Linked DNA regions of Homo sapiens. The protein of the gene in region 1 purifies or fractionates together with the protein of each later gene. This does not show direct contact. Each region holds a gene or a part of one and is shown in the gene's direction. Other genes may lie near its edges. The genes, in order: SETX, FAHD2A, LRRTM3 and RIC3.

Evidence for each region.
Region 2: the proteins of SETX (region 1) and FAHD2A purify together in Homo sapiens (affinity purification with mass spectrometry; one large-scale study listed by BioGRID and IntAct). This does not show direct contact.
Region 3: the proteins of SETX (region 1) and LRRTM3 purify together in Homo sapiens (co-immunoprecipitation; one large-scale study listed by IntAct). This does not show direct contact.
Region 4: the proteins of SETX (region 1) and RIC3 purify together in Homo sapiens (co-immunoprecipitation; one large-scale study listed by IntAct). This does not show direct contact.

The regions. Positions count from the first base shown.
Region 1 is NC_000009.12:132,320,540-132,328,995, reverse strand, and holds part of SETX (probable helicase senataxin), read left to right. Parts: coding exon 1-2,672; intron 2,673-8,456. UniProt on the Homo sapiens protein: Probable RNA/DNA helicase involved in diverse aspects of RNA metabolism and genomic integrity.
Region 2 is NC_000002.12:95,403,457-95,411,912, forward strand, and holds part of FAHD2A (oxaloacetate tautomerase FAHD2A, mitochondrial), read left to right. Parts: exon of another isoform or gene 1-1,946; intron 1,947-2,096; 5' UTR 2,097-2,102; coding exon 2,103-2,347; intron 2,348-3,484; coding exon 3,485-3,701; intron 3,702-7,070; coding exon 7,071-7,130; intron 7,131-7,407; coding exon 7,408-7,570; intron 7,571-8,456. UniProt on the Homo sapiens protein: Tautomerase that converts enol-oxaloacetate, a strong inhibitor of succinate dehydrogenase, to the physiological keto form of oxaloacetate. It is thereby required to maximize aerobic respiration efficiency by preventing succinate dehydrogenase inhibition.
Region 3 is NC_000010.11:67,094,702-67,102,165, forward strand, and holds the end of LRRTM3 (leucine-rich repeat transmembrane neuronal protein 3 precursor), read left to right. Parts: intron 1-2,885; coding exon 2,886-3,095; 3' UTR 3,096-6,850; downstream 6,851-7,464. UniProt on the Homo sapiens protein: Exhibits a limited synaptogenic activity in vitro, restricted to excitatory presynaptic differentiation. May play a role in the development and maintenance of the vertebrate nervous system.
Region 4 is NC_000011.10:8,156,774-8,165,229, reverse strand, and holds part of RIC3 (protein RIC-3 isoform a precursor), read left to right. Parts: intron 1-8,456. UniProt on the Homo sapiens protein: Molecular chaperone which facilitates proper subunit assembly and surface trafficking of alpha-7 (CHRNA7) and alpha-8 (CHRNA8) nicotinic acetylcholine receptors.

The DNA.
Region 1 (8,456 bases):
AATTAAAGAATGAAGAATTAGTTATTTTCTCTTTCCATGAAAACAATTGTAAAATACAGGAATTTCATGTTGATGGTAAAGAATTGATCCCTTTTACAGAAATGACCAATGCTTCAGAGAAGAAATCATCTCCCTTTAAAGATCTTATGACTGTACCTGAATCAAGAGATGAGGAGATGAGTAATAGTACCAGTGTGATTTATTCTAACTTGACAAGAGAACAGGCCCCTGACATCAGTCCTAAATCTGACACCTTAACGGATTCTCAGATAGACAGAGACCTTCACAAATTATCTTTACTAGCTCAAGCCAGTGTTATTACGTTCCCATCCGATTCACCTCAGAACTCATCGCAGCTGCAAAGGAAAGTAAAAGAAGATAAAAGATGTTTCACAGCTAACCAAAATAATGTTGGAGATACCTCCCGTGGACAGGTTATTATTATTTCAGATTCTGATGATGATGATGATGAAAGAATCCTGAGTCTTGAGAAACTCACTAAACAGGACAAAATATGCCTTGAGAGGGAACATCCAGAGCAGCACGTTTCAACAGTTAATAGTAAGGAGGAAAAGAATCCAGTAAAGGAAGAAAAGACAGAGACTCTTTTTCAGTTTGAGGAATCTGATTCTCAGTGTTTTGAGTTTGAAAGTTCATCTGAAGTGTTTTCAGTTTGGCAAGATCATCCAGACGATAATAATTCAGTTCAAGATGGTGAGAAAAAATGTTTGGCTCCTATAGCCAATACTACAAATGGTCAGGGTTGTACAGATTATGTATCTGAAGTTGTTAAAAAAGGAGCAGAGGGCATTGAAGAACACACAAGACCACGGAGTATTTCTGTTGAAGAATTTTGTGAAATTGAAGTAAAAAAGCCTAAGAGAAAACGATCTGAAAAACCAATGGCTGAAGATCCTGTGAGGCCTTCATCTTCTGTCAGAAATGAGGGCCAGTCTGATACTAATAAGAGAGATCTTGTGGGAAATGATTTTAAAAGTATTGATAGAAGGACTTCAACTCCCAATTCACGTATTCAGAGAGCCACTACGGTTTCACAAAAGAAGTCTTCAAAGCTTTGTACTTGTACAGAACCCATCAGGAAAGTTCCAGTTTCTAAGACCCCTAAGAAAACTCATTCAGATGCCAAAAAAGGACAGAATAGAAGTTCAAATTACCTAAGTTGTAGAACAACTCCTGCTATAGTGCCGCCAAAGAAATTTCGTCAGTGTCCTGAGCCAACTTCAACAGCTGAGAAACTTGGCCTGAAAAAGGGTCCTCGTAAGGCATATGAGTTGTCCCAGCGGTCTTTGGATTATGTAGCTCAATTACGTGATCATGGCAAAACTGTTGGAGTAGTTGATACCCGAAAAAAGACTAAATTAATTTCTCCTCAGAACCTGTCTGTCAGAAATAATAAGAAACTTCTGACTAGTCAAGAACTTCAGATGCAAAGGCAGATCAGACCCAAATCACAAAAAAATAGACGAAGACTTTCTGATTGTGAAAGTACAGATGTTAAAAGAGCAGGGTCACATACAGCACAGAATTCTGACATATTTGTACCAGAATCTGATAGGTCAGATTATAATTGTACAGGAGGAACTGAGGTACTTGCCAACAGTAACAGAAAACAGTTAATAAAATGCATGCCTTCTGAACCAGAAACCATAAAAGCAAAACATGGGTCTCCAGCAACTGATGATGCTTGCCCTTTGAACCAGTGTGATTCTGTAGTGTTAAATGGAACAGTACCAACAAATGAAGTAATTGTCTCCACTTCAGAAGACCCTCTGGGTGGAGGTGATCCAACAGCACGTCATATAGAGATGGCAGCTTTGAAAGAAGGAGAGCCTGACTCCAGCAGTGATGCAGAGGAAGATAACTTATTTTTAACCCAAAATGATCCTGAAGATATGGATTTATGTTCACAAATGGAGAATGACAATTATAAACTCATTGAACTAATTCATGGAAAAGATACAGTTGAGGTTGAAGAAGATTCTGTAAGTCGGCCTCAGTTGGAATCTTTGAGTGGCACAAAGTGTAAGTACAAAGATTGTCTTGAAACCACAAAAAACCAGGGTGAATACTGCCCAAAACACTCTGAAGTGAAAGCAGCAGATGAAGATGTATTTCGTAAACCTGGCTTGCCTCCTCCTGCATCTAAACCTTTGAGACCTACCACTAAGATTTTTAGCTCAAAGAGTACTTCACGAATTGCTGGTCTTTCTAAATCTTTGGAAACTTCTTCAGCACTTTCACCGTCTCTAAAAAATAAGTCAAAGGGGATACAGTCGATTTTGAAAGTACCACAGCCAGTTCCCCTCATAGCTCAGAAGCCAGTTGGTGAAATGAAGAATTCGTGCAATGTTCTTCATCCTCAGTCTCCGAATAATTCCAACAGGCAAGGTTGCAAAGTTCCATTTGGTGAAAGCAAATATTTTCCATCTTCCTCTCCAGTAAACATTCTTTTGTCATCACAGTCTGTCTCTGACACCTTCGTTAAAGAGGTCTTAAAATGGAAATATGAAATGTTTTTGAACTTTGGTCAGTGTGGGCCCCCTGCAAGTCTTTGTCAGTCCATCTCAAGACCTGTGCCTGTCAGATTTCACAATTATGGAGATTATTTTAATGTTTTTTTCCCTTTGATGGTATTGAATACTTTTGAAACAGTAAGTATGTGTTTCATTTGTATGCCTCTCCAAACTTTTCAAGTTACCTCTTTACCTTGCTGAGTGAAAATGAGAGTATAGTTCAAAAAATCAGCCAGGCGTGGTTGCGGGCACCTGTAATCCCAGCTACTCGGGAGGCTGAGGCAGAGAATTGCTTAAACCCAGGAGGCGGAGGTTGCAGTGAGCCGAGGTCGCGCCACTGCACTCCAACCTGGGCGGCAGAGTGAGACTCTGTCTCAAAAGAAAAAACAAAAAAAAGTATAGTTAAATTAAAATTGACCGTTTCGATTTAGATACTGGTTTTAGATTTCATGTTGAACAGACATTTGTGCCAGCCACTGTTTTAGATACTGGCAATACAGAGGAAACACTTTTTTTTTTTTTTTTTTTTAGGTGGAGTTTTGCTCTTGCTGCCCAGGCTGGAGTGCAATGGTGCGATCTTTGCTCACTGCAACCTTCTGCCTCCCAGGTTCAAGTGATTCTCCTGCCTCAGCCTCCCAAGTAGCTGAGATTACAGGCCTGCGCCACCAGGCCTCACTAATTTTGTATTTTTAGTAGAGAAGGGGTTTCACCATGTTGGTCAGGCTGGTCTTGAACTTCTGATTCTGACCTCAGGTGATCCACCAGCCTCGGCCTCCCAAAGTGCTGGGATTACGGGCATGAGCCACTGTGCCTGGCTGGAAACTCTGCTCCTTGGAGCTGATAGACACAACTCAGGGTGCTAATATACCAAGTGCAGAGGTAACACAGAAGGAAATGTTTATTGACGCACGGGTAAAGGAAGACTTCTCAGAGGAGATAGTTTCCCATGTGCATTTGTTTTGTTTTTAAGTAAGAGACCTCTGCTGTAGTTTTCTTGAGGAGGTGGCAAAGGGTGAATTACATTGAACACAAAGTAATGAATCCTAAATTTCCCTACACGTCAGACTTCCCAGTTTCTTTCTTTCTTTTTTCTTTTTTCTTTTTTTTGAGACGAGTCTCGCTCTGTCGCCCAGGCTGGAGTGCAGTGGTGCAATCTCGGCTCACTGCAAGCTCTGCCTCCCGGGTTCAGGCTGTTCTCCTGCCTCAGCCTCCCGAGTAGCTGAGACTATAGGCTCTCGCCACCACGGCCGGCTAATTTTTTGTATTTTTAGTAGAGATGGGGTTTCACCATGTTAGCCAGGATGGTCTCAATCTCCTGACCTTGTGATCTGCCCGCCTTGGCCTCCCAAAGTGCTGGGATTACAGGCGTGAGCCACTGCGTCTGGCCGCCAGTTTCTTACTCATCACAGCAGCTGCTCTGTGTAACAGCCTCCCCAACCCCAGCACATCCTATTCTGGTTCTTCTCTCCTCCTTACTCAAGTAGAGTTGACAAACGATAAGATTCCCGTTAAAATTTGAGAAAAACATCAAATAATTCTTTAGTGTAAGCATTCAACTGCGTTTAGAAGGATTTTTGTGTGTGTGTTTTCAAGGCAGGTAAGAAGTGGGAGCAAATTTTTAGTTAATCCTCAAAAGAAACTTTCGTGTATACAGTAATACTCTTAAAACCAACAATGTTGAGGTAAATAGTCATGGTTCATTAGCTTGATAGATATTTGAGTGCCTAGTATGTGCCAAGTGCTCTTACAAGCATGGGAGATAAAGTGGTGAACAAGACAGGTGTGAGGTCTCTGCTCTCTGGAAGTGACCATTTGGGATTGAGATAAGGACTCTAGTATGATCTAGAACAAAGGGGACAGGGCACTTTCTGGAGAGATCAGATAACCTCTATGAGCAGATGATATTTACACTGAGACCCAAGTGACTAGGAGTTAACTGTGGGAAGTATGTTACAGGCAGAGTGGAGTGCAAAGACAGTCTGGTAACAAGATTGGAGTGTTGGGGAAGGAAGTGTAATGTACAAAGGGACAAGTCTACTACAAAAGAAGAGAAGTGAGTTGTTAACACTGTACATGGCAAGATAAATGGCTTTTATAAAGCTTGAGTGAACGTATCTTCATCAATGTACTTTATGTTAAATCTTTTGATCAATTCGTACCTCAAATTTTAGCCATTTTTGAGAGTTGCTTTATTATTTTTTTTTCCTAAGGTACTTTTGTTTTAGCAGGAGTTGCTTTATTTTCGCTGGAAAGCACTAAATTGCTTAGAAGCCATTCATAACCCTATGAAGGGTAGACACTTACTTTCATTTCCTGAGTTAAAAGATATTTATTAAGATTTATTTCCTTCAGGACATTTTTGTAGTCTCAGCTTTTTAAAAACAGAATGAGCACAAGTTCCATTTGTACATATACAGAGTTTAAAATAGTCAAAGATTTCTATCTGGCCCATTATAAAGAACATCAGGCACCCCTCATCCCCTCAAGTAACTATTTTCTATTCTTAATGAGTCCTTTGGAAATTTCTTTCCATTTTTATCTTTTTTTTTTCTTTTTTGGAGACAGGGTCTCACTCCTGTCCCCCAGGCTGGAGTACAGTGGCACAATTATGGCTCACTGCAGCCTCAACCTCTTGGCCTCTGGTAGTCCTTCCACCACAGCCTCTTGAATAACTGGGACTACAGGCTCACACCATAATGTCCAGCTAATTTTTGTATTTTTAGTAGAGGCAGAGTTTTTCCCATGTTGCCTAGGCTGGTCTCAAACTACTGGGCTCAAGTGATCCACCTGCCTTTGCCTCTCAAAGTGCTACGATTACAGGCGTGAGCCATCCCGCCTGGCCTTCCTTCCATATTTCTGAATAACATGTCCATATTGTAACTCCTTGATTTTTCAGTTTTAGGCGTTTCTGTTTCCTGCTTCAGGAACTACCCCCATTTCCAGCCCAACCCTTGCACACACTCTTCCTGTTCCCTCACCCTCATTATGGGATTGTCTTGAAATTTTTAGATCCATTTTTGTTATTTTGACTATGTGAAAGATATCTTCAGCTAAGCCATGTAGTATGCTGTAATTGCCTTTCCATTTCCTTCCAAACTCTGTGTTTTCCTTGGATTTATTGTTTTATATGTTTATTTAATTTTCTACTTATCACTAAATTAATGCCAGGATGTCTTTTCTTGAATGTTTAAATCGCTCATGATCAGGTACGTTAGTTAATCTATAAATTTGTTCTGTGTGTGGTGCATGATGATATTCCTGAAATAGTAGTCCTTATCCTTGGGTTGGGTCTGTATCTCCTCCACCCCCGTCATCTTTCTTGGTTACTCATGTTAGCGAGGCCTGTCCTTCAGGCTTCCAGAGAAGAGGATATATGAGAGGTACATTTTTGAAATCTTGCATGTCTTAGAATTTCTTTAATCTTCTCATTTTCTTTAATTTTTTCTATCTTTCATCTCATTTTCTTTTTGTTATCCTTTCTTGGAGGCCACCTCAACTTTTCTCCTAAGTCCGTTGAATCCTTTTTAGCGTATTTTTAGTTTCCTGGAACTCTTGTTCTCTGAATAGTCCTTTATTCTATTTCATGGATGTGGTATTTTTTATTAGCTAAAGTTTATGATAATTTTAAAGTTAGCTAAAAGTTTTTCTCTTTTTGCATGGTTCGTGTTTCCCCAGTTGGTTTTTCCTGTTCATTTTAGTGTTTATAGTCCTTTCTGTTAATTCCTTTTTTCAGGTGGTAATGATTTCTGGTGGTCTACTCACATTTAAGAACAGGAAACTAAAGAGTAGATTGGAACATTATTCATGGTAGCCAAAAAGTGGAAACAACCCAAATGTGTGTCAGTTGATGAATGGATAAACAGGTCTGTTCATACAATGAATGGAATATTATTCAGCCATAAAAAGAAGTGAAGATCTGTGTTCACTAATGAACCTTGAAAACATTGTGCTAAGTGAAATAAGTCAGGGACAGAAGGTCACATATTATATGATTCCGTTCATATGTATTGTCCAGAATAGGCAAATCTGTAGAGACAGAAAGATGAGTAGTAGTCAGGGGAAGGAAGGAGGGGGGAATTGGGATTGCTGATAGGTACAGTGTTTCTTTTGGGGTGATGGAAATGGTGCGGAATTAGGTAGTGGTGATGGTTGCACAGCATAGTAAATAAAACCATAGTACTAAAAACCACTGAGACGTACACTTTAAAATGGTGAGTTTTATGTTGTATGAAATACCGTCTCCATTTAAAAAATATTACTTTAAAAAGAGAATAAATTTGATTAGCAATAGGTTAAAAAAGATGCCTAGGAAAACATGAAATCTTCAGATACTTTTACAAAAACGAGCCTCTTTATGGTTGCACTCTGGAAGGCAAACGTGATCTGAAGGGCGCCATAGCAGGGTAAAACCCAGCATTAGTTTCATTCTTCATGGTAAGGTTTTGTGCTTAGGTGCAGTTATAATCTGTATTTTGTTATATATATAAAAGATGAAAACACCAGAAGCTCTGAGTGAAAGGGTGGGCTTGTTGACCATTGGCACTTCATTAGGAAGCCCCACCCCACCATTATGTCAATCAATGTCTTTTTTTCTTTTTCTTTTTCTTTTTTCTTCAGACGGAGTCTCACTCTGTTGCCCAGGCTGGAGTGCAGTGGCACGATCTCGGCTCACCGCAACCTCTGCCTCTTGGGTTCAAGCATTTCTCCTGTCTCAGCCTCCTGAGTAGCTGGGACTACAGGTGCACACCACCACACCCGGCTAATTTTTGTGGGTTTTTTTTTTTGTAGTTTTTTTTTTTTTTTTTTTGAGACAGTATCGCTCTGTTGCCCAGGCTGGAGTGCAGTGGCATGATCTCAGCTCACTGCAAGCTCCGCCTCCTGGGTTCATGCCATTCTCCTGCCTCAGCCTCCCAAGTAGCTGGGACTATAGGTGCCTGCCACCATGCCTGGCTAATTTTTTGTATTTTTTAGTAGAGACGGGGTTTCACCATGTTGGCCAGGATGGTCTCGATCTCCTGACATCTTGATCCACCCACCTCGGCCTTCCAAAGTGCTGGGATTACAGGTGTGAGCTACCGCGCCCAGCCCTAAGTTTTGTGTTTTTAGTAGAGGTGGGGTTTTGCCATATTGGTCAGGCTGGTCTCAAACTCCTGACCTCAGGTGATCCACCCGCCTTGGCCTCCCAAAGTGCTGGGATTACAGGCGTGAGCCACCGCGCCCGGCCTCCCAATGTCTTTAGTCTTTATTTTTCCTGTCAGGTCTCAGTTCCCAAAAAAGAATCGTCACATATTTTACCTGGGAAATGTAGGCGTGGCAGGGAGCTGAGTGTGGGAAGAGGGCTGGGTAGGAGTGGGGGACGGAGGAGAGGTGTTGGAGCATTCAGTGTGTAAACATTTACTACTATCTCATCCTCATCCTTGCTGTCCTCAAGGTCAGAGACTGCTTATCCTCTCTAGAGACAAAATCTCTTGTCATTTTTTGCTGGGACCAGGGAGGAACAGTTGCCCTCCAGCCATCCTTCTAGAGAGAGCTGTTGCTTCCCAGTTGGAGTTCACGTTCTTGGGCTTGCTGAGTTAGTTCCATTCATCCCTCTGCTTTGCAGCTTCCAAAGTGTGGTTACTGTTGTCTCCTCTTCTGTCCTTTTTGTTCTAATTGGTCAATGCTGTTTTTTAAAATCTCTTTGGTGTTTTAGTGGGGTTTCAGGAGGGAAGGAAATGGTGTGTGTTCAATCTACTTTGAAGTTACACCTTTCTTTTTAACCATACGATTTCAACCGTCTTATTTAAGCATTTCTGGTTTATACAGGCCAATAATTATTGGTGGTATTAAGGTGCCTTGTTTAGTTTTTTTTTTTTTTTTTTTTTTTTTGAGTTGGAGTCTCGCTCTGTTGCTCAGGCTGGAGTGCAGTGGTGCGATCTTGGC
Region 2 (8,456 bases), on another chromosome or scaffold:
TCCCCACGCATGTCTGTTAGCAGTTACGGCCTCTGGAGGATCTCCTGTGGGAGGTCCCTACTTCTCACTACAATCTTTAGAGACTTTGGAGGATTTCCTATGGAAGGTCCCCACTTCTCACCACAACATTCTGGGTTAAAATGGCCTTGGTAGGGGGATGGGGGCTGAAGCTGGATTTTTTTGCTTGCATTACAAGCTTCTGAACCAAGGACTTCATGTCACCTGGACTTGGATTCACATCCCAGCTCCTTCCTCTCCTAGCTCTAGGACTGTGTAACCTTGGGCAAATCTCTTAACCTCTTTAAGCCTTAATTGTTTCATCTGTAAAATGAGGCTAACAGTACCTACCTTCCACAATTGTCGAGAATTAAATCAGACATTGTAGGTAGAGCACTTAATAGTTGGCATTCAGCGGCAGCAGTTACTGTTATGTTAGCATGTGGAGTGTCTGAGTGTGTGCACATTGGCTCGAACAGCCTTTTGACAGTGGCACAGTTGGTGCTTGTGTAAGACAGCAGGGCAGAGAAGTCAAAGCCCTCGGTTTTCTAGTCAAACTGGTGGGCCACAACAGTGGTGACCTAAGTCTAATGAATCTTCAACTGAACAAGGCAGATTGAATCTCCAGGTGAGGACCAAGAGTCTGGGGATCAGCTGCCTCCACATTTTTGGGCATAGAAGGCTGTACAATACCGCCTTTGTTGTAAGAGCAAGGAACCATTCAGGGAAGGCACCATGTGGTAAGGAATAGAGGCCAGACGTGGATTAAGAACAAAACAAGAGAATAGTGTTTGTCTTTAAGTGGAGCCTTGGACTCAAAACAGGATCTGAGCCCTGAGGATTTTTTTTTTTTTAATTGAGATGGAGTCTTCGTCTGTCACCCAGGCTGGAGTGCAGTGGCGCGATCTCAGCTCACTGCAACCTCCTTCCCCTGGGTTCAAGCGATTCTCGTGTCTCAGCCTCCCTAGTAGCTGGGATTACAGGTGGCTGCCACCACACTCGGCGAGTTTTTTGTATTTTTAGTGGAAACGGGGTTTCACCACGTTGGCCAGGCTGGTCTTGAACTCCTGACCTCAAGTGATCCACCCACCTCGGCCTCCCAAATTGTTAGGGATATCACGCATGAGCCACTACAACTGGCCCTTGTGGGAAGGCACAGCCATGTCTCCTGAAGTTAACAAGCACTAAGCTTTCCCAAGTAGTGAAATGTCAAGCCCCTGCTTCTGTCACTTATTTGTTCATTCAGCAGAAAGTCACTGAGAGCCTTCTGTGCACCAGGCACAGTGCTGGGCAGTGAAAGAGACAGACATGTGCCCTGGACCCAGGGAGATGACAAGTGATGGCTGTCAGGCCCAGACCCTGTTGTTTGTCTGCAGCCTCTTCCCTCAGGCAACTTGTTCTCTATCAGGAGAAACGAAATAATTATTATCTGGAGAGGCAGGTGGGGGCGCTGCTCCTAGAAGACTGGGACAGCCTGGTAGAGGTTCTAGCTTGATCATGTGAGCAGTGGAAACCATTTTAAGTAGGAGGTTAACAGGACCAAAATAGCATTTAAAAAATTGTTTATGGCCACTGTGAAGCCAGTTTCACCAGCGTCACTTGCCCATGCTGGGCTGCCACCCAGCTAATTCCTGGTCCTGCTCATTTAGCCCAGCTCAGCTCACATCACTTCCTCCAGAAACTAGAGAAGGGTAGAGCCCCTGACCATCTTCACAGCATTAGTCCTGATAGCTGAATCTTACGTCAGTTGTTAACATCTGTGACCTGTGCAGGGAGAATGGCAGGGCTGAGTTTCACCTACATTGTTTCCCCAATACCTACAGCAGAGCCAAGCACAGTGGGAACTTTCAGAAAGCACTGGTTGAAGGAACGCTGGAATCCCTGGGACTTACTGCGTAGCATGTAGTAGTTGCTCCTCTAGAAAAGTTTCACCTTATGAAGTATAGCAGGTAAAATACAAGCCTGGACCACTTCCCGTGTGGTATGCAGGGAACGGTTGATGGGGCAAAGGGCCTCGGGCTATAGCCCTAGGAATTTCAGGGAACCTGATGATGGCTCTGGGATCCTCTGTCTCCTGGATCCTGCATTTTTCTCTGCAGGCTCTGATGCTGGTGTCTGGTAGAAGAAGGTTACTCACAGTTCTGCTGCAGGCTCAGAAGTGGCCCTTTCAACCCTCCAGAGACATGAGACTAGTGCAGTTCCGGGCACCCCACCTGGTGGGGCCTCACTTGGGCCTGGAGACAGGGAATGGTGGAGGGGTTATCAACCTCAATGCCTTTGACCCCACACTCCCGAAGACGATGACGCAGTTCCTAGAGCAGGGAGAGGCCACCCTCTCAGTGGCAAGAAGGTAAGTAAGTGGGCAGCATCGCCCTGAAGCAGCTGCCCTGGTCCCCCTGCACCCTCCCCGCTCTGGGAAACAGCACCAGCAGGTAGCTCTTTTGCAAGGGAGCAGAGTAACCCCACCTTTCCTTTTCTCCCGTTCTCTTAAAAGATCCTTAGAAATCTTACATAATAACATCTTCAGTTTTCAGAGGAGAAAACTGAGAGCTAGGGGAGGTGATTAACAATTTGAAGGCCATACATGTGGTGCTGGAACCAGGACTCTATACTTCATCACACTGCCTCCTCTGGGAATGAAGTCCTGGACTGACTGACGGGTCTGGGCCCGGGGGTCCTAAAAGGCATCTTATGCAGCTGGGGGAGTGATATAGACTCCCAGCTCCTACAAGGAGAGAGGACTGCAAGGAGGTTTTCTATAAGACACTTGGTTCCTGGGTTTGGACTAGATTAGGTGAGAGTGTCCCTGAAGCCTGGACCCCTATAGAATCTGGTCTAAGGAGCTGATGAACAATAAATTAAAAATACTTTAAGATGTCATTTTCATCTATTAAAATGGAAAAAAATACAAATGTTTCACAGCTCACAGTATTAACAGTATGTTCCCATATTGCCATATTCTGCAAAGACTGGAAATCTCCATGCCCCTCATTAGGGACTTGGGTATATCTCTATAGAGCAGTAATATGCAGCCACAAGAAATAAAGAGGACACTCTCTATGTATTGTTACATATTGTTAAGCAGAGATCTCCAAAATCAGTTGTTTTTTTAAAAGATGTAAATAGTATGCTATCATTTGCATACAAAAGGGTGGGAGAAGAATATCCATAGAGTAGCTGCGAAGAGCCAGGGGAACGGGGTAACCGGAAGGGGAAAGGGAAACCTTTCCATGTATTCCAGTTTGTATCTTTTACATGGACATGAGTTACCTAAGGGGGAGAGGAAATCAACACTGGATAAATAAAAGCCCTGCTCTGATAGCAAAGGACAATAGTCAGTGATTTTCACACTGACTCTGATGGTTGATAGAGCTAGGAAATAGATTTCAAAAAGCAAAACCTGTAGCTGCTGCAGGATCTGCCCAGCCTGCCCGGGATTGCCCACCTGTTCCCAGCCAGACCCTCTCACCTGCTCTGGTCTCTACAGAGCCCTGGCTGCCCAGTTGCCAGTCCTACCACGGTCGGAGGTAACCTTCCTGGCTCCAGTCACACGACCAGATAAGGTGGTGTGTGTGGGCATGAATTATGTGGACCACTGCAAAGAACAGAACGTGCCCGTGCCCAAGGAGCCCATCATCTTCAGCAAGTTTGCCAGCTCCATCGTGGGGCCCTATGATGAGGTGGTCCTCCCACCACAGAGCCAGGTCAGTGTCTCCCCACTGCCCTCCCTAGTCACTGGGCCCATCACAAGGGCATTCTGAGCTCAGTATTGAGCCTACTGGAGCCACCTCTCGCTCAATAGCGCATTCAGCAGAAACTCTACAGGATTGTACACACAGTAGTAACACTGGCCTTGGAAAAAAAAAGTTAATGTACGTGTTTTCCTGGTTACAAAAGCAATGCACCTTCACTGTAGATAATAAAATAGAGATAAACATTAAAAAATTATGTCACCCATAATCCCACTGCCCATGGCTCGGAATATTAATGTTTTTCTGTCTACCTTCCCAGTGTTTCTCCGCTCCTGTATATGTTTATACTGTACATATACTTACCTTTTACTTAAGACTCCATCAGGAGCATTTTTTCATGCCATTAAGTATTCGCCCTGACACCACGGAGTTTGTTATGTAGATTAGTTTATTCCTGAGTACCTTACTGCTGGATACTGTTTCTAGTTTTTGGCTTCTATAAATAAATGTTGCAGTAAACATCCTTATGTGGAAAAGGCTTTGCATGTCCATTAATACATTATTATTTCCTTTGAATAAACCCTTTGGAATTTAAATATGTCAGCGTATAGGCAGTATTTCAAAATTTTTGAAAAATTCTGCCAATTGGCCTTTTAAAAAATTGTAAAAGCAACTTACACATCCACCAGTAGTGTATATACCCTTTCTAACACTGGTTACTTTTTCTCTCAGATTTTTATTTTAGAAATGTCTTGAAAATTATAGAAAAGCTGGGAAAATAATACAGTGAACACTCAGATAACTTTTCCACCTGGTTTCATTGTAAACATTTGGCCATATATCCTTTTTCTCCCTTGTCTTCTCCCTGCCCTCCACATGGCAAACACACATTTTTTTTTTTTTTTTTTTTTTTTGCAGGGTATGGGGTGGAGGGGACCTTTTAAAACACATTGGAAATATTAAGACAATTTAGTCATAAAAACGTAAATAGGCATCTTCTAAGAATAAGGACAATGGCTTGCATGACCATCCCACCATTATCACAACCAAAAAAATTAACTTGAATAATATTTAATATGAAATCCAATTGCCCCAATTCCCAATCGGAAGTACTGCTGACTTCCCCAAAGATAACTTCTAATTTGGTTACTTCGTTTGTTGCTCCATGATCAACCAAGGCCACACACTGTATTCAGTTATATCTCTTTAGTGGTTTCAATCTAGGACAGGGTTCCATAGACTTTTTCTTAAAGGGCTGTATTAGTCTGTTTTCATGCTGCTGATAAAGACATATCCGAGACTGAGCAATTTACAAAAAAAAGAGGTTTAATTGGACTTACAGTTCCACGTGGCTAGGGAAGCCTCACAATCATGGCAGAAGGCAAGGAGGAGCAAGTCACATCTTAGGTGGATAGCAGCAGGCAGAAAAGAGCTTGTGCAGAGAAACTCCCATTTTTAAAACTATCAGATCTCATGAGACCCATTCACTATCATGAGAACAGCACGGGAAAGACCTGCCCCCATGATTCAGTCATCTCCCACCGGGTCCGTCCCATAGCACGTTAGAATTATGGGAGCTACAAGTTGAGATTTGGGTGGGGACACAGAGCTAAACCATATCAAGGGCCAATTAGTAAATATTAGGCTTTGCGTGTCATATGTTCTGTTTTGCAACAATTCAACTCTGCTGTTATAGTGTGAAAACCACGATACAGAAATGAATGATGGGTTTCCAATCAAAGTTGATTATAGCAGATGTTGAGCTGGCCATAGTTTGCCAACTCCTGCTCTCAAACAATACCCCCTGCCCTTTCCTTGAAGAATCCAGTTGTCTCATAGCATGTTTCACATTCTGGGTTTGTCTGGTTGTTTCTTCATGATTAGTGTCAGGGTAAGCATTTTTATCAAGAGATCTACAAAGCAGATGTTATACATTTTCCATCGTATCCCACTGGGAGGCTCATGTCAGTGGTCCCAGAATTTGACCACTTGGTTTAGCTGACATTCACTAGGTCCCTCCATTGTGAAGATGCATTTCTATTTTTGTAATAAGCAATCCATGGGTGGTAGTTTGAGATCACATAACTATCTTATTGCCCCATAGCATCTCATCCAGGGATCCTGTGGTCATCCTGACTGAATCTATTATTGCACTGGGGGTTAGAGAACAATGACCTTTTTTTTTTTTGAGACAGAGTCTCACTCTATTGTGCAGATGGAGTGCAGTGGCATAATTTCAGCACACCTCTGCCTCCTGGGTTCAAGTGATTCTCCTGCCTCAGCCTCCTGAGTAGCTGGGATTATAGGCGTGTACCACCACACCTGGCTAATTTTTGTATGTTTAGTAGAGACGGGGTTTCATCATGTTGGCTAGGCTGGTCTTGAACTCCTCACCTGAGGTGATCCACCTGACTTGGCCTCCCACAGTGCTGGGATTACAGACGTGACCCACCACTCCCAGACAAGATCAATGACTTCTCAATCATGCCTTCTGTTTTTATTGGCTGGCATTCTTCTATGAAGAAAAGCTGCCTCCCTCCTTTTTATTCCTGTCTTCAATATCACTGTGAATTCTGTTTTTACTCAATTGTTTGTAATTCATCATTTACATTCTTTAGGTGACCTCAGTTTGGCCAGTGAGGGGCCTTCAAGTTGGCTCCATTCCCGTCACTTTTAGTATATCCTAGCTTTCTGGCCAAGATGTTCTAGGCTTATCATGTACTGTCTGTCTTGGAACTGGAATTGGCCGTTTCCCCAAGGAACCCAGTGCTCCTTAGTGGGGAGTGGTATTAGAGACCAACATCTGGATGTCGGGTGTACTTACACCAACTCTGGTTATTATTAGAAAGAGCCACCAATTTTAAAGGCCAAATTATATCTATTTTATAGTGTATTTTATGGATTATGGGAGAGGCTGAGCATTTCTTCATGTTTTGTGGCCATGTCCGTTACCTTTTTGTGAATTGCTTACTCAAGTCCTTTGTGGGAGTTAATAGATTAAAACACTTAGAACAGTGCCTGACACACAGTAGGGTTACATATTGCTAGGGGATATTACTTCGTATTTATCCTTTGTTAAAAGTATCCAGAGTGACTTTTAAACTCAGTGCCCTGGACACGTGTTGCTCTTCTGCAGTCAGTGGTGTGGGGACCTGTGCCTGCATCCCATGATGCTGTCTGCCACTGCCCAAAATGTATGGGTCTACAAGTCACACCTCCCTTGTCATTCACTGGGCTCTGGTTCGTGGTGATGGCAAACATGGGATGGCAGCGAAGCCATACTGACAAAGGTTGAGGCCCTTCAGCATGGTGTGCAGCCTCTCAGCATGGACAGTGGGCCCTGAAGCCACTGCAGCTCACTGTTCCTCTCCCACCCTACAGGAGGTAGATTGGGAAGTGGAGCTGGCCGTGGTCATTGGAAAGAAAGGCAAGCACATCAAGGTGAGGTGGAAAGGGTGGGCTCCCAGTCCAGAGTGCAGCAGAGGCCCCAGCTCCTGCCTCTCCTAGTTCTGACCCCACTCACCAACACACGGTGCCAGCTGTCCCTGACACTAGGAAGCAGTCAGCCTCCTTGCTCCCTGACACTGCCTTTCCCTTCACCCACCTTTGGCTGGCTCTGGCTACTAACATGGGATAACAGCTTAGAGATCCCTTGCCATAGGTGTTGGTGTCACCCATGATCTAACCTCCTGTATGGCCAAATCCCCTGCCCCCATAGGCCACAGATGCTATGGCCCACGTGGCCGGCTTCACTGTGGCTCATGACGTGAGTGCTCGTGACTGGCAAATGAGACGTAATGGGAAACAATGGCTGCTGGGAAAAACCTTCGACACCTTCTGCCCTCTGGGCCCTGCCTTGGTGACCAAGGACAGTGTAGCAGGTAGGTCCCTGGTCCCTGCCCCCTTATACCTACCATTGCACAGATGAACAGCGCTTCAGGGAGGAGCATGGGTTCAGGTACATGTGGCACCTGCCCTCCCTGGCCGCCCTTTCACTGCTGACTCCATACAGGGCAAGTCTCTTATCCTCAGCCACGAGTTCTCCCATGGGCTTCCTTCCCAAGCCCCCTAGAGGGAACACAACTGCAGAGGATGTGAAACTGCATGCGTGAAGTAAATTACAAAGAACACTGAGCTGATGGGTGGATCGGGCTTCCTGCGGCTGCCACCTCTGAAACAATCTAAGTTGAGCATCATGGAGCATAGTTATCCCAAGGCCAAGGCATTTTCCACACTACAGGAGATGAAAGCCAGTGTGACTCACCCAGCCACTGTGGAAATAGAACAGCACTGACCACACACAGTCAGGATACAGCGCCAGGATGGGGGCAGTGCCCCAGAGGGCAGAGCGCAGCCTCTTACACAGCCACCCACAACTGTGGTGGAGGTGGGGGGTGTCCACATGGGCCAGCCATGCCAGGATACCAAAGACCCCAGTGCCTCAGCACCCCATGCAGAGTCCTCAGCAAAGTTAAATTGTGTTTCAGCTGCTCTACTTAAGGGGGGTAGAACACTAGGACCACCACCAACAGTAAAAAGTGCTGGTTAGCCAGGATGTTCTTACAGTAATCCATCCCCTGCCAGCATCCAGTACACGAGGCTTCTCTGTCCCGGCTAGAACCATTGCCTCACTGCTTTATAGATGCTGAGTCTTTTTTTTGCCATGGTCTTACTGTGTCACCCAGGCTGGAGTGCAGTGGCCCAATCCCAGCTCACTGAAGCCTCAACCTCCTGAGTTCAAGCAGTTCTCCCGCCTCAGCCTCCTGA
Region 3 (7,464 bases), on another chromosome or scaffold:
CCAAATATTTTATATATTAAAAAATTATCTTACTTGACATTCCAATAAAATTGTCAGTGCAAAATATTCATAATTCAACAAAGACTTACCTGAACACAATTTGAAAAATTTATGAGTAAATGTACACACATGTGCATACATATACCATATCATGTATATATCCATAGGTATGTATACTATATTTACATGAATCTTATATAGATGTCATGAGTATGTAAAAGTGGTCCAAAACTGATGTATCACCAAAATTTGCATTTTCCATACCTGATTTAAATGATTTTGAAACTATAAGTAATTGGCTTTAAGTTTATACATATATGTGTATATACATATATGTTTATATATTATATATGTATCTGTATGTGTGTACCCCTATATATACACATGGGTATATATCCAATGCTAACTCTCTTAAATTTTCAAAATCATTTAGGTCAACCTGGGAAAAATCTACTGTGATGCTGTATTCAGATATGGCTAGCTGTTACATTCTACTTACTGATACATCTTACTATGTTATTTTATTGTTAATAAGATAGAATCAACTTTAAAATGCACTCTCAATTACATGGAAATGATATATGTTAAACATTCACGTTGCTTATAAGTTCCATCCTAATTTCAGAAATAATAAAATGTGAAAAAATGTGGATTTATATTTAAACAGTATAATCATGGCATAAAGTATTTCAAAATAAGACATATCCAACAGTAAGAAACTCACTAAAGAAAATAATATGTGGGATTTTTAAAACAGATCATCAGAGCTAACTATTTAATTGATAATGGTTCAAATTAGGACTTGCACTCTGCATACCAGTCAGTAGCCTTGATACATTAAATCAAGCAGGAAATTGTGTGTGCACACACACACACAGAATAAATGTATCATGGTTTATTATTTTTCATAAATCATCACCATAGAAATTACAAATTATTCACAGTAGAGTTAATTCTAAGTAAGCCAGAAATGATTCTGCATATATGAGGCATAAGTTTCCATGACGAATAAGGACAAGTATATAAAATCCTACAGATATATGACCCATAACACATTACAGAGCACTGATTTCCCAGAGGATAATGTAAAACTCGTGTACCCAGTAACAGTTCTATTTTTGTTCTCTTCTATAACTCAAATCTATTCATGCTGCACATTTACTTTTACATAAAAATGTATTTTAGTTATCTGGGCTATTTCATCTGTGACAACAAGATTCTTATTTATTTTAAATGGAAGTATCCTATTTTATTCTTAAGCATTTTCTTTACGATCTTTCAGTCGCCTTGACCATTTTTTAAAGTATGTGATATCTTTCATTCACGCATCAGATAACTTCATGTTTTAAATCTTAAAAATCCACATAAATAGGAAGAGTTACTCTGGAATTTTCATTTAATAAGCTGGATTACATTTCTCTAAGAACTAAGCTATATATATTTTATATGCCGAAATATTCATATTATAAGCAAATAATCTTAAAAGAAGTGATTAGTTTTATTTTTTATTTTTTTGATTACTTTTATTAAAGAGATAAAAGGTAATATTTGCTCCAGGAATTTTCACTGAAGTAGAAATACATGTAAGTAGAACTGTAGGGATGGAAACAGAAGTGGCAAAGACGGTTCTAATGCATGGAGAGAAGGGGAAAGAATGTAAAGATGCAGTTAATAAAAAAATAATACCTAGGCCTTCTATTTTTCTTAGCTTTGGACTCTAATCTCAGCTAAGATCAGAAAGGAAGTTAGTCTGATGTGCTCAAACAAATATACATTCTATCTGTTCACCAAACAAGAATGGCAGAAGCTTTTATCCTCCAGAGAATTCAACAGCATGAATTAGTAATTAGGATATTAAACCAAGATCAGGACTGAAGGTTCCTGAAATCTGCCTACTTTTTAGGACAAGTTTTTATCTTATTGAAAAAGAAATGGGAACTATCTCTAGACTTTGATATCTGATTATATTTCAGGCTCCCCTTTGTCTGTAACTGTGTTTCCCTTCTCACCATGGTCATGCTTGCTTTTTCCCTCACTTTTAGAACTTGCTTTCTTTAGTTGGCAAGGGAGTCCCTTCCTCATGTATACTACTGGTTCCTTCAAACTAGCATCATCCTTTGATGCTTTTTGGACTTTCATAGGAACCATAGATTTTTCCTGGGAATTCTCTATGCTCATCTAAATTTTAGATATATGGACCAAACTACAGACATTAATATTTTAAGGAATCTTCATGATAAAATAAATATTAAGAAGTCATGGGTAAGAATAGCCAGAATGGCTTGTCTAGATAATTCTCTTCTGCAATGGTTATCGAAGTGTGGTGTGTGGATTAATAGTCCAGCATCATATAGGAACTTGTAAGACATGTGGATTCCAGGACCTATACCAGACCTACTGGATGAAAAACTTGGGTGGCAGGGGGTTGACTAGTTAAAGAAGTGGGTGGTGATTTTTGTGAATGCTAAAGTTTGAGAATCACTCTTGTTCTATTGTATCCTAACCAAATAATAGGATAATTAACACTAATAATAATAATAATAGTGTTTATCAGTTCTAAAAACACAATTATTTTCCCAGTTAGCGAAAGCAATTTTCTGACTGTTCCAATAAATCTTTTATCATTTTCAGAACCATGTAGGCTACTACTTATCCAAATCTTCTAGTAAAGAATTAAGCAGTTTCATCCCAGGATTTAAAACTGTTGCACTGATCTCACCATATAGGAATAGGGGGCATTAGCGGGATAATATAGGGACACCTGGGCCACAGGGCCACAGATATAACCATGGAGGTTAGTCAGGTCAGCACTTCAGTCTCTAAATCTTTCCCCTAAAGTTGTCCATATTTTTATAACTGACTTTTCTCATGTCATTTTTCCCCAGATACCTTTATCAATGAATGTGTCAACCTTTCTGGCATACGACCAGCCCACAATAAGTTACTGTGGGGTGCATCATGAACTTCTCTCCCATAAGTCCTTTGAAACGAATGCACAGGAAGATACGATGGAAACACACCTAGAGACTGAGCTGGACCTGAGCACAATCACAACAGCTGGCCGAATCAGTGACCATAAACAGCAGCTAGCTTAACTGAGATCATTGGTAGCCAGGGGTTGCTACCAAACTTTGTAACCTCAAGGACAAAATGAGGAAGATGTGTTCATTGTGGACTCTAAAAACAAAACAAAACACAAAATCCCCTGTTCAAATAAACAAAAAATCCAAGATTGATTCATGAAATAAAGAAGACATGAATTGTTTTAAGTCTACACTTTGTAATTAGCTAAGTTGTGCAGTATTTTTTGACTTAAACAGAGTATGACCCTGAAAAATAAAAGAATCTTTTTTTTTCAAAACTCATCCTACCTACCTGTAAAAACTGTACAAAGCTAATGTATTTTTCATATTGTAAAGTTTCAATTGTAGAAACAACTGGTATGTACAGTACCATAATTTAATTACATTTTACTTTAAAAACTTTACACATTTCAGTTTCTAAAATTTTAAATTAACAAAAATTATTTCTTGTGTTATTCAGAGTTACTCAGTTTTGTAAGGACTGTTTTGTTACTGCTTTTGTGCCCAGAAACCTTGACTCTAAAATTCTGTGCTGTGCGAAACATGCACGATTTTTATTATGCTTACTGCGTAGAATTTTATCTACTTGTTCCAGAAATAATACATTAACCAAAAAGGATTTAATTGTTCAGACTTGTAAGAGGTTCTTCAATTACATAGGCAGGTTTTTCTTAAAAATGAAAAAAAAATCAAAGATTTTTTTAACAGTTCTCAGACTTAACTGTTGCCTTGAATTACAGCCTAGTTTCTAAGCAGTGAAATGTAATGATAAAGAGGGATATTTTAACATATTTCCGAATGAATGACTCATTATTTCATTCTTTTGAGTAACCATTGTTAAGGGTTGGGGGAAAGCATGGACAAAACATCACTGGAAACAAAGGCTGTAACCACAGCAACAGACTTTGTGATACAGTTAAAAGGTGCAGCTGCCAGTGACAAATAAAAACTTTTGTTACATCTCATTATTTTCAGGCCAAGGTGGGAGTATAGTGCATAATAATTGTACAGTAGCAATTTTTATCCTAATTAACCCATAGCGGTTTACCTAAAAGTAACCATCAGTCAGTGCAAAATGTGCCTGGTTCTTAAGACAACTTTTTATTTAGAACTGTGAGACCGGTATTTTGGAAACATTTCAAAGGAAACATATGAATTTGTTTTGCGTTGTGCACTACATCATTTCTCTCCTGAGGAAGAATTTTAAACATGTACAGCTCATTCAATATAGATATGAGCCATGGTGGAGAACTTTATCACTCAAGTAGACGGTAAACATCCTTAATATGTTCTAAATTGTTTATATTGCTATCCATAATGGGATTCACCTCCAAATTATCAAAGAAATAACTCAGAGTAATTTGACACCAGCCCAGATCATATATTGATTATACAATTGTATTATAAAGTTCATTCAAATCAAATTAAGAAAACCTGAGTCTTTAGAAGCTGAAATAATCAACTTGTTTGTGCTGTTTGCTTGACATAGGTTATTGTTTGAAAATATTGTTACTTTATCAATAGTAATCATGCATTCTTGTGTTTTTTTTTAATGGAAAACTGCAAGTTTCAATTACTGTTGCACTAGAAGTGCTTTTTATGTTGTCATTTTATATTCATGCCATCAAAAGTAGATTGACAATACATCAATCTAACAGGGGCCAATCAAAACAATGAAGAAAAGAATAACTGAAAACAATGTCAAACTTTTAAATTTTTATCTCTTCCAAAGAAGTTATATCTATAAAATCTAGTTTTATGCAGGTTTGTCACAGCAAATGTAAAAGCGGATTCAAGAAGAATGAACTTAAAAACTGTGGAGCAAATTTTTGTTGAAAATATATAAAGTCAGAAAGAAAAAAGATGTAAATGTTGGAAGAAGCAAATTCTATTACTAATTCAAATGAAACTAAATGTCAAACACAGTACTTGTGTCAACTATTTAGCATCCCAGATTTTGTAACATATTTTGCATAAATTATTTGCTCTTCAAAAATTTTTGTCATTTTAAATCTAATTTTAATCTTTATGTTTTCCATTTTCTAATTTCCTTGCAATGTATTATTCTTATTCTTAATTCTCTACATTGAAATTTGGCTTTACGTCGTTAGCAAATTTATAAAGGGTTATAAAGCTATGATTCGTGAGTCTAAAATCAAATGCAAAATTTTATTTATTATGTAAACCAAAATGTCATTTGCAAGTTTTCTCATTAGAAGTTATCCTTGCAAAGATAGAAAAAGAAGAATTAATTTGTGTAAACAAGCACAAATTAACATATTTGTTAATAAATAGGTTTATCTACTAATAAACCTATTTCTAGACACATTCAAATTGATAATGATTTTTAGAAATGTTAAGGTTCCAAGGAGTCTTACAAGTGTATGCCCTTGATTTCCTGAAGGAAACCACTTTCTTTCTTAAATATTTTAAATTCATCTAAAGTGAACGACTATAAATAGAAGCAATCACCTTGGAACCACAGCTCTGTGCAACCAAGGCCCTAAGCTACACCAAATACGCCAGGAATTTTGAGACTTCTCATCTTTAAATTCAACCAAAAGGGTCTTTAGCAAGAAAAAAAATGCTGGATGATGATTATTATTATTTTTGCTTAATTTTTATTTTGCCATGTCCAGGTTAAGGGTGAGGGTGGTGACAATCTGAAAGACTGTGTCTGGAATCTTTATCACATATTTCCAATTTATTTCAGTTTTTGTCTAAAACTTGCATTTCTAACCTATCTTTTCCAGCATTTGATAATCTCCCATTTCCTCCTTCTAACCCCCATTCCTATGTCTCCCTTCCTGTCTATTCCTCACCGATTTAAACAACTGAAATGTTTACTTATGTTTGGAGCTGAAAAATGGAAAGTTTCACCCAGCATGGTTACAATAACAGCCAGCAGCTGCAGCAAACCATAAAGTTATGCAGTGTTTTGAAGTTCACAAACCACATTTTACATAAATTATCTCATTTTGTCTTCATAACAACCCTATGAAGACACATTAATCTCAAAGAAATTGAGCTCTTACCCCAAAACACAGGGCCAATAATTGGTGCAGTTGAATTATTCTCAAAATTTACAGGCTGTTAGTCTTTCCACTGTACTAAAAGATTTCTTTCTCTGATCAGAGCAAGAGAACTTCCAGAGATAATGGATAGAATGAAAGAATATATATCTATATATATTTGACATGTTGTTTAGTAATCCCTATTTTAATTCAATTCTCCATCTGTAAAATATTAGCTAACTGAATTATTTCTGTGTTCTACTCTGGGCTCTCACATTAAAACTCTGTTCAAAAAGTTTAACAAGTCACATATTTCTTAACATACAAGTTCGTTTGTGAATGTGCAGAACAGATGCTCCCAAGATGTGGATGCATGTAGGCCCCGAGGTACAGACATAAAATCAAGGAAGCACAAGGAAAGAAACCCCAAGGAAAAAACCAAAGACCTTCTAAATTGAGACTGCATAATTATAAAAGAGATCCATAGTACAGGGTTGAACACATGTTCAACACTTTGTCAACTGAACACATGTTCAATTCGGAGCTAATTGGGAAGACTTACATAAAATTCTTTTTCTTTTTTTCTTTTGGCAAGATTTCTTCTTAAACCATGAAATTTTTTTTACTTGTAATAATAGAGAACAATTTTCTCCATTTTCTTATAAGAAAAATAAAATATAATTTATCCAAATTGATGTATAGAACCTAAAACATATGCTAACTTGCAAATAATATATTTTACTGATCAACTCATTTTTGTCAAGTCTCTATTTCTAGTCCCTCCTGAATGTTTTGGAAAACCACAAAACTATACAGATTAATACAAATTACATTTTTACAAGGAAAGAAAACATTCCCAAATTTAACACTCAAGACTAATCACATAATCCTATTTTGAACTCAGATCTCTCTGACTCCATTGACTGCTTAGAAATAGTAAAATCTTTTTGAAAAAAAAATTTTCTAAAATAAAACTATTGTATATGAGAGTAAAAATATATTTGTTTTTGATTGTTCCTGACTAGAAGACAGATATCATCTCTCAAACTAAACACTCAAAATAAGAAATTGAATTCATGAAAACCAATACCTGATGTGAATTGTTGTTATTCAACTGTATAAAAGAAATGCAGATGTTCTGGGTATGTCAGAGCATGCGAAAGAAGAAGTTATGGGACTGGCAGGTATTTGGCCTCAGGAGAAAAGGTGAAAATTTTCCAGAATAGATATAATAACATCTTATATTGGCACAGCTCTTAACAGTTTATAATGCTGGGTAATATAACAATCTCCTAATTCATCAAAAAGTCTCAAGGTGCAGATGAATTGGTCTTGCAATAAGAAAGAGCTTCCAACTCCTCCCATGA
Region 4 (8,456 bases), on another chromosome or scaffold:
TTTTTGTGTAGACTTAATGTTTTCATTTCTCTTGAGTGTATACATTTGGAAAATGTGAGCATTCCAGTGTGGCTGGAACTAAGCGTGGAATTTCTAGGTTGTATGGTTATTACATGTTTAACCTTTTGAGGAACTGCCAGACCATTTTCCAAAGCAGCTGTACCATTTTACATGACCACCAGCAGTGTAAGAGGGCTTCTGGTTTCTTGTCAATACTTGTTTGTTATCTGTCTTCTTGATGATAGCCATCCTAGTAGGAATGAAATGGTATCTCATTGTGATTTTATTTGCATTTCCCTGATGACTAATGACATTGAGCATTTTTTGTGTGTTTATTCACTCTTTGTCTATTTGTATATCTTGTTTTGGAGAAATGTCTATTCAGGTCCTTTTAACCCTCTTTAAAAGTCAGATTACTTGTCTTTTTTTTTTTTTTTTTTTTTTTTTTGAGAGAGACAGGGTCTCACTCTGGTGCACAGGCTGGAATACAGTGGTGCCATCATTGCTCACTGTAGCCCCAAACTCCTGGGCTCAAGTGATTCTCCCACCTTACCCTCCCAGGTAACTAGGACTACAGGTGTGTGCCACCATAGCTGGCTAATTTTTAAATTTTTTGGCAGAAATGAGGCTCTCACTATATTTCCCAGGCTGGTCTTGAACTTCTGGCCTCAAGTGATCCTCCCACCTTGGCCTCCTGAAGCACTGGTATTACAGGTGTAAGCCACCACACTTGGCGTCTTGTCTTTATTGTTGAGTTGTAAGAGTTCTTTGTATATTCTAGGTACAAATCTATTATCAGATATATGATTTGCAAATATTTTCTTCCATTCAGTGGTTGCCTTCACGTTCTTGATGGTGCCCTTTGAATAAGAAAAGTTTTACATTTTCTCTGACAAAGTCCAATTTATCTACTTTTTTCTTTTGTTTCTCCTGCTTTTGGTGTCATATCTGAGACAAATTGCCAAATCCAAGGTCATGAAGATTTATGCCTATGTTTTCAAGTTTTATAGTTTTTGCTCCTGCAGTTAAGTCTTTGATCCCTTTGAATTAATTTGTGTATATGGGTAAGGTAGGAGTCCAACTTCATGTGGATATATAGTTGCCCCAGCACCATTTGTTGAAAAGACTCTTCTTTTCTCATTAAATTGTTCTGGCACCCATGTCAAATCAGTTGACTCTAAATGTAAGAGTTTGTTTCTGGACTCTCAATTATATTACATTAATCTGTATACTTATCCTTAGCCAGTACCATGCTGTCTTAATTATTGTAGTTTTCTAAGTTATGAAATCGTGAAATGTGTCCTCAAACTTTGTTCTTCTTTTTCAAGATTGTTTTGCTATTTTGGGTCCTGTGACCTAGCATTTCCATAGGAATTTTGGATCATCACTTTGGTTTCTGCCAAAAAAAAAAAAAAAAATGCCAGTTGGGATTTTGATAGAGTGAACTGAAGCAATTTGGAGAGTACTGCCATCTTACCAATATTAAATCTTTCAATCTATGAACAGAGGATTTCTTTTTTATTTATCTAGGTCTTTAATTTATTTTAAAGGAGATTGTAGTTTTTAGTGTGAAAGTCTTATTTTGTTAAATATATTCATAAGTATTTTATTCTTTTTGATGTTGTTATAAATTTTGTTTTCAGATTGTTCCTTAGTGTATAGACAATTAGTTTTTGTATATTGATACTGTATCTTGTCACCTCGCTGAACTTGTCTGCATATAGAGATAGTTTTACTTTTTTTTTTAATCTGAATGCCTTTTATTTTTATTTTTACTTTTTTTGGCCTAACTGCCCTAGCTGGAACCTTTAGTGCAATGTTGAATAGAAGTGGTAAGAACAAACATCCTTTCTTGTCCTTGATCTTAAGAAGTATGCTTTACTAGCATATGTAATGTTATCTGGGGGCATTTCGTAGATGCCTGTTTTCAGGTTGAGGAAGTTCCCTTGTATTCTTAGTTTGCTGAGTGTTTTTCATTATGAAGGGGTATTGAATTTTATCAAATACTTTTTTTCTATGTCTGTTGAGATGATTATGAGATGATTATGTGAGTTTTGTCCTTTACTGATGTGGCATATTACATTAATTGAAATTTAGATGTTAACCCAGCTTTACCTTCCTTGGCTAAATTGAGGAGGCAGTTCTTAAAGTGTTTTGGGGGGTGTGTGTGTGTGTGTATGTGTGTGTGTGTGTGTGTGTGTGTGTGTGTGTTTAAATAATCCAGATGAAAAAGAAGGGCATTCTAGGTAGAAGAAATACTGAGCAAAGAAACACAGAGGCTTAGGGCCAGGCACGGTGGCTCATGTCTATAATCCCAGCACTTGGGGAGCCCAAGGCAGGCAGATTGCTTGAGGCCAGGAGTTCGAGACCAGCCTGGCCAACACGGAGAAACCCCGTCTCTACTAAAAATATAAAAATTAGCCCAGTCTGATGGTGCACGCCTGTAATTCCAGCTACTTGGGAGGCTGAAGCAGGAGAATTGCTTGAACCTGGGAGTTGGAGGTTGCAGTGAGCTGAGATCCCACCACTGCATTCCAGCCTGGGCGACAGAGTGAGACTCTGTCTCAAAAAAAGAAAAAAAAAAAAAAAAAAAAAAAAAAGAAGAAGCATGGAGCCTTGAAGTATCCTCAGAGTTGTGAGAGAAGACACCAGAGAAGTTGGCACGGGCCAAATTGTGAAGGTTTTTTTCTGTCATTCTTAAGGAGATTGGGTTTTATTCTAAAGGCAGATGAGGCATCATTGAGTGTGTAAGGAGAAGAGAAACATTTAACCTGGTTTTAGAAAGGACACCCTGGCAGCAGTGTAGACACTGCGTTGTGAGGATTTCTTCAGGGAGAAGATTGTTGTAGTCATCCAGTTGAGACATCATGAGCATCACCAAGTCATTGTCATTGGGTTCACCAGTTAGGGTGCTTGTGACAAGTGACAGAAAAGTCAGCTTGACTAAGACAGGGAATTTATTGACTTGTGTAAATGAAAAGACCCTGTGTTAGAAATGTCTTGCAGTATGGTTTGAACCAGAGACTCACAGTTGTCACACTGGGGCTCTAGCTCTTATTTTCTGTGTCCTTTTCACTCTGGGTTCGTTCTCAAGTTGGTTCTGTGCTCTGGCTGCCCTCTCAGGGTGGTAGCAATGGTTGCAACAGTTTCGGACATTACCTCCTCACATTCCATTGCCCGGAGAAAGTGAGTGTCTCATTTATAGCAACAGTTTCGGACATTACCTCCTCACATTCCATTGCCCGGAGAAAGTGAGTGTCTCATTTATAGCAACAGTTTCGGACATTACCTCCTCACATTCCATTGCCCGGAGAAAGTGAGTGTCTCATTTATAGCAACAGTTTCGGACATTACCTCCTCACATTCCATTGCCCGGAGAAAGTGGGAGTGTCTCATTTATATACGTGTGTGTGTAGAGCTGGCCTGGAACTCCTGGCCTCAAGTCATTGTCCCACCTCAGCCTCCTAACGTGCTGGGATTACAGCACTTTGCTGGGCACAGCTCCAGGCCTCTTTTCTTTTAAGTCCTCCATCACTCTCACCTTCCAGCCTCACTCCCAAGATTCTTTCCCAGAAGTTCCAGCAAACATATCCGTTCACGTTAATGGCTTGAATTAAGTTAACTTGTGGTGCTGTGGGTAGAAAGAATATACTGATGAATCCACTCTGGAGTTGAGAGGAGTTCCCAAAGGAAAATATGGATATTAGAGCAAGAGAGGTTATCAATGGATAGATTGGAGGGAAGAGAATAATTTTAAGAGACATTTTAAAATAGAATGGGAAAGTGAGGGAGAGGGAGACATCTGGATTATTCTCAGGTTTAGGTGAAGGGATAGATGTTGATTTCCTTTGCCAAAATAGGAATGGAGGAAAAGTAGATTAAAGGTGTGTGAAAAGAAAATAAAAACTTGGGACCCCAGTTCACTATGCCAAAAGGAAAAAATTAAGCTGAAAGCTGAGTCGTGCAAGAAACTGCCTTTCCTTTTGTTCCTAAGCAGGTAGCTACAGATAAAAAATTAAATATCTCTACAGGTAGCTACTCTATGTTCACCGTATCTTACGTGAAGTGCCGATTTACTGAGCACCAGATGAATACATAATTGACTATTCCTCTACCTGCTCCTTTTCTCTTGCAACATATAGATTACCATACCCTTCTTTCCCCTCCAGCTCACTTTTCCCCTTGAAATATTGAAGCCCTCAAAATCATCTTTGGAGAAAGGCACAGACCTCTCTCCTGGGCGTGTCCTTAACGTTGGCAAAATAAACTTCTAAATTGATTGAGGCCTGTCCCAGATACTTTTTGGTTTACAGGTGTAAGATGATTAATCCAGGAATTGGAAAAGTAGTATTATGTCCCTTTCTTCAGTCTTCTTTCCTGTGTTAACATCCCTAGCTCCCTCATCCGTTCCTGGTATGACCTAGGTGCAAGTGTTTGAACACAGCCCTCTCAGAAGAGGCTCTTAGAACTGCAAATAACAGCATATCTAAGACAGTTCATGAAAGAGCAATCTGTTGTTTCCCTGCACTCTTCTTCTTCTATACTTAATGCTTTCTGGGGATTGCTCTAGTTTTTAGCATTTTCCTTGCTGACTTTGCTGTATATTAGAATTCTGAGCCTTTTTTTCTTCTTTTTAATAGGAGCTGCTCATCTAGGTTTTGTTCATTTTCTACTGTTCACTTGATGTTTCGGAATGAAATGTAGGAATTTGTAGTTTTCCTTGTTGCATTTTATTTGTTTAAATTTGGCCAAGAATTCTAGCTCTTGAAATTTTTTCAGAGCATTCAATGTTTCATTCAATGTATCTGCTTACCATTTCTTAGCTGTGTGCCATTCTTGATTTTTAAAAAACTTTTTGTTAAAGACATTTTCAAACATAAGCAAAAGTTGAGAGAGTAGTAAAATGAATCCATATCATCCTGCTTCAGCAGCCATCAATACATGGTCAGTCTTGTGTCATGGGTATCCCCACCCACTTTTCCCCCCATTCACTGGATTATTTTGAAGCAAATCCTAGACATTGGATCATTTTTCATCCTTAAATGCTTCAGTATGCATCTCTAAAAACAGATTCTTATTAAAATGTAGCCACAATACCATTGTCACACCTAAAAAGTCAATACTTCCTTGATGTCATTAAATATCTAGTTGGTGTTCAAATTTTTCCCACCATGTTATAATTTTTCTTTTTTTCTTTCTTTTTTTACAATTTTACCTTTGATTATGATCAGCATGTTTTCTCTTTTTGTTTGTTTTTTCTCAGGCTGGAGTGTAGTGGCAGGATCTGAGTTCACTGCAACCTCTGCCTCCCAAGTTCAAGCAATTGTCCTGCCTCATCCTCCTGAGAAGCTGGGATTACAGGCATCCACCACCACGCCTGGCTAATTTTTTTTGTATTTTTAGTAGAGACGGAGTTTCACCATGTTGGCCAGGCTGGTATCGAACCCTTGACCTCAGATGATCTGCCTGCCTTGGCCTCCCAGAGTGCTGGAGTTACAGACATGAGCCACCATGCCCAGCCTCAGCATGTTTTCTTGATAGGTCAAATTATTTTTTTAAATGTCTTAGTCATTTAAAACTGCTTTTAGAGTCCCACCACTGTATTCATGGAAACGTTTTGTTTAGGGTCATTCAACCAGTTGGTTATTTGGTTGCTCTATTCCATCTTACTCTGTCACCCTGGTTTGCCTCCTTCCTCCTTCCCCACTTCAGTCTATTCTCAATATAGCTGCCAGATAGTATTATGTTGAAGCTTAAGTCAACTCACATCTCTCCCCTCCTCAAAACTCTACAGTGGCTTCCTGGCTTAGATGAAAAGATAGTCTATACATGACCCAAAAGGCCCTATGTAATTCTCTTCCCCATTTGCTTCTACTTTTCTATCTGTCTCACTTTGTTGTGGCCACACTGGCTTCCTCCTCACTGTTCCTTGAATATGCCAAGCATGTTCCCACTTCAGTGCCTTTGCATTTGCTGTTTCCCTTGTTTGAAATGCTCTTCTTTTGGATATCCATGTGCCTTTCCCTTCGTCTTCATGTTTTCTCTCAAACTGCATTTCCTGATGCCTTCTCTGGCCATTCCAGCTAAAATCTTAACTTCCAACACGGTCCTACCCCTTCTCCCTGTCTTATTTTTTCTCCTTAGTATTTATCATTATCTTGTTTATTGTCTCTTTTCCTACTTAGAAAGGAGGCTCTGTGGCCGAGCGCGGTGGCTCACGCCTGTAATCCCAGCACTTTGGGAGGCCAAGGCGGGTGGATCACAAGGTCAGGATTTCAAGACCAGCCTGGCCAACATGGTGAAACGCCGTCTCTACTAAAAATACAAAAATTCTCTGGGCATGGTGGCAGATGCCTGTAATCCCAGCTATTCGGGAGGCTGAGGCAGAGAATTGCTTGAACCCAGGAGGCGGAGGTTGCAGTGAGCTGAGATCGTGCCACTGAAATGCAGCCTGGGTGACAGAGACTCCATCTCAAAATAAAACAAAAAACAAACAAAAAACTTCTTAACTCTGGCTTCCTAGAGTTTGTGCTACACGATTCCTACTTTGTTGTCAGAAACACTAAGATCTCATTCTCCTGAGGTTCTCCTTTCATTTCATCAGAGCTTCTTCTTTGATCAGAGTAGCAGTTCTTCTGCTCTCCCTGTGTACCTGTGGAACATAAAAATGTCAGCACACTTGGTCAAGAACTTGTCAGTTGTTCCATTGTCAGCTGAATGAGAGTTTGAATAGGTTGCAGGGTAGTTGAAGTACTCCAAGATGACAGTGTGCCACTCTGTGTTGGAGGTGGCTTCAAGAGAGTCCTATCTACTACTTCTACTTGGCTGGGAACCTTTGGTGTTCCCACAGTAACACTGTATCTGGGCATCTTTCCTGCTGACCCTGCCTGAATGCTTATAAATAGGGTTCCTTAGTAGCCCCTCTCCAGTGGCCCTGTTCCTGTGGAATAGCACAGACCCTTTGTCACGATGTTCTCCCTAAGTAAGTTGTGTCCCACTGAGTCTTAATCTCTCTGAGATGTGAAAATATACAGATACATGTATATGTGTATATAAATATACACATACAAACATATACACATATACATGTATGACATACATATACATACATAGTTCTGTGTTATCTTAAACTAGCTTCTTATGTGTTGGTATGTAAGTGCCTGAAGACAAATATATTATTTTGGTTGGTTACCATTTATTTTCCCTAATGAAGCATCAGAGATCTACTCTGAAGGAATGTTTGAAGGACAGAGATTAGGAAATCATTTTGATTTCAGAGGGTCATTTTCCTGTTCATGTATTATGGAAATGAACAGAAAACAACAGACAATTTGAGAGCCCATGAATGCGTGTAAATTAGGCATTTTTTCAAGTTTAGAAACGTACAGGTAAGTGGGTATGGAATACCTTGCTTGATCAGTCATCCTAATTGCCAGTTTCTATTCTAGAAACTATAAAATTGAAAACTGGCAGGATAATGAAGTAAAAAACTATTTTTAGCCCTACAAATGACTGGGCAGGATCTTGAGATTCTAATAAAGGCTAACACTCCCAGTATAATTCATCCAAATCAGGTCAGCAAAGATTGTAGTAGGCAAGATCCAGAGCCTGCCCTGGGAACCCAAACAAATAAAACACTAGGCCTTTATTCAAGAAGTTCTTAGTTTGTCTTCCAGCCGGAGACCACTAGGAACACACCTGTAGTTGAACAAGTTGAGTGTATTACTCATTGCAGCAAGGGAGAATGCACACCATGGGGAATTGTGGGGCATCTCAATAAGGCACTGTTAGAAAAAGTCATTATAGGATTTGGGTTTGTGTTAGGTGATCTGGAGGATGGTTTAAGGATGTGGTACTTTACTCTGAATTAGATGCTTTCAGGAAGTAAGGCAAATTCTAGGACTGGTATCTTAACAGTTTATCTAAAGGGAGGGCCAACTAGAGAAAGGCTAAAGCTGTAATTGATAAAGCAGCCCCATCGTTCACATTACTCAGCACTGGGGGATATTAGGTATTTAGTGGCTTGGACAGTGTTCATGTTTTGTCTGTGTTCAGACAGATTACTGAGTGGTCTTGTTTTTTGTCTTGATCCGTCATGATCACAGAATGGCCTTGTCTAATGTTGGTGTTCTGAAATAGCTTATGTGTAACAGGAGAACACCACAACTTATCTGTGAGTACCAAGCCAGCTCATAGCAGTATTAATGCCTAGTTGATAATACCAGGCCAACTTTTAGATGTTAGAGGCTGCTTTTCTAGTTCTCAGATATGATATACACCAAATAAAATTGGATAGAGATGGTGTTTAGTGGAAAATGTTACCTGTTTTTGTTTCCCGGTTCATTTAAGTACAGGCTATAAGACACATTAATAAAACTCTTGATTAAGGCCAAGTGTGGTAAGTGCAATTAAAGAGGCTCAAGCAGTGTGTTTTACAGGCATGGGGAATAGCATGA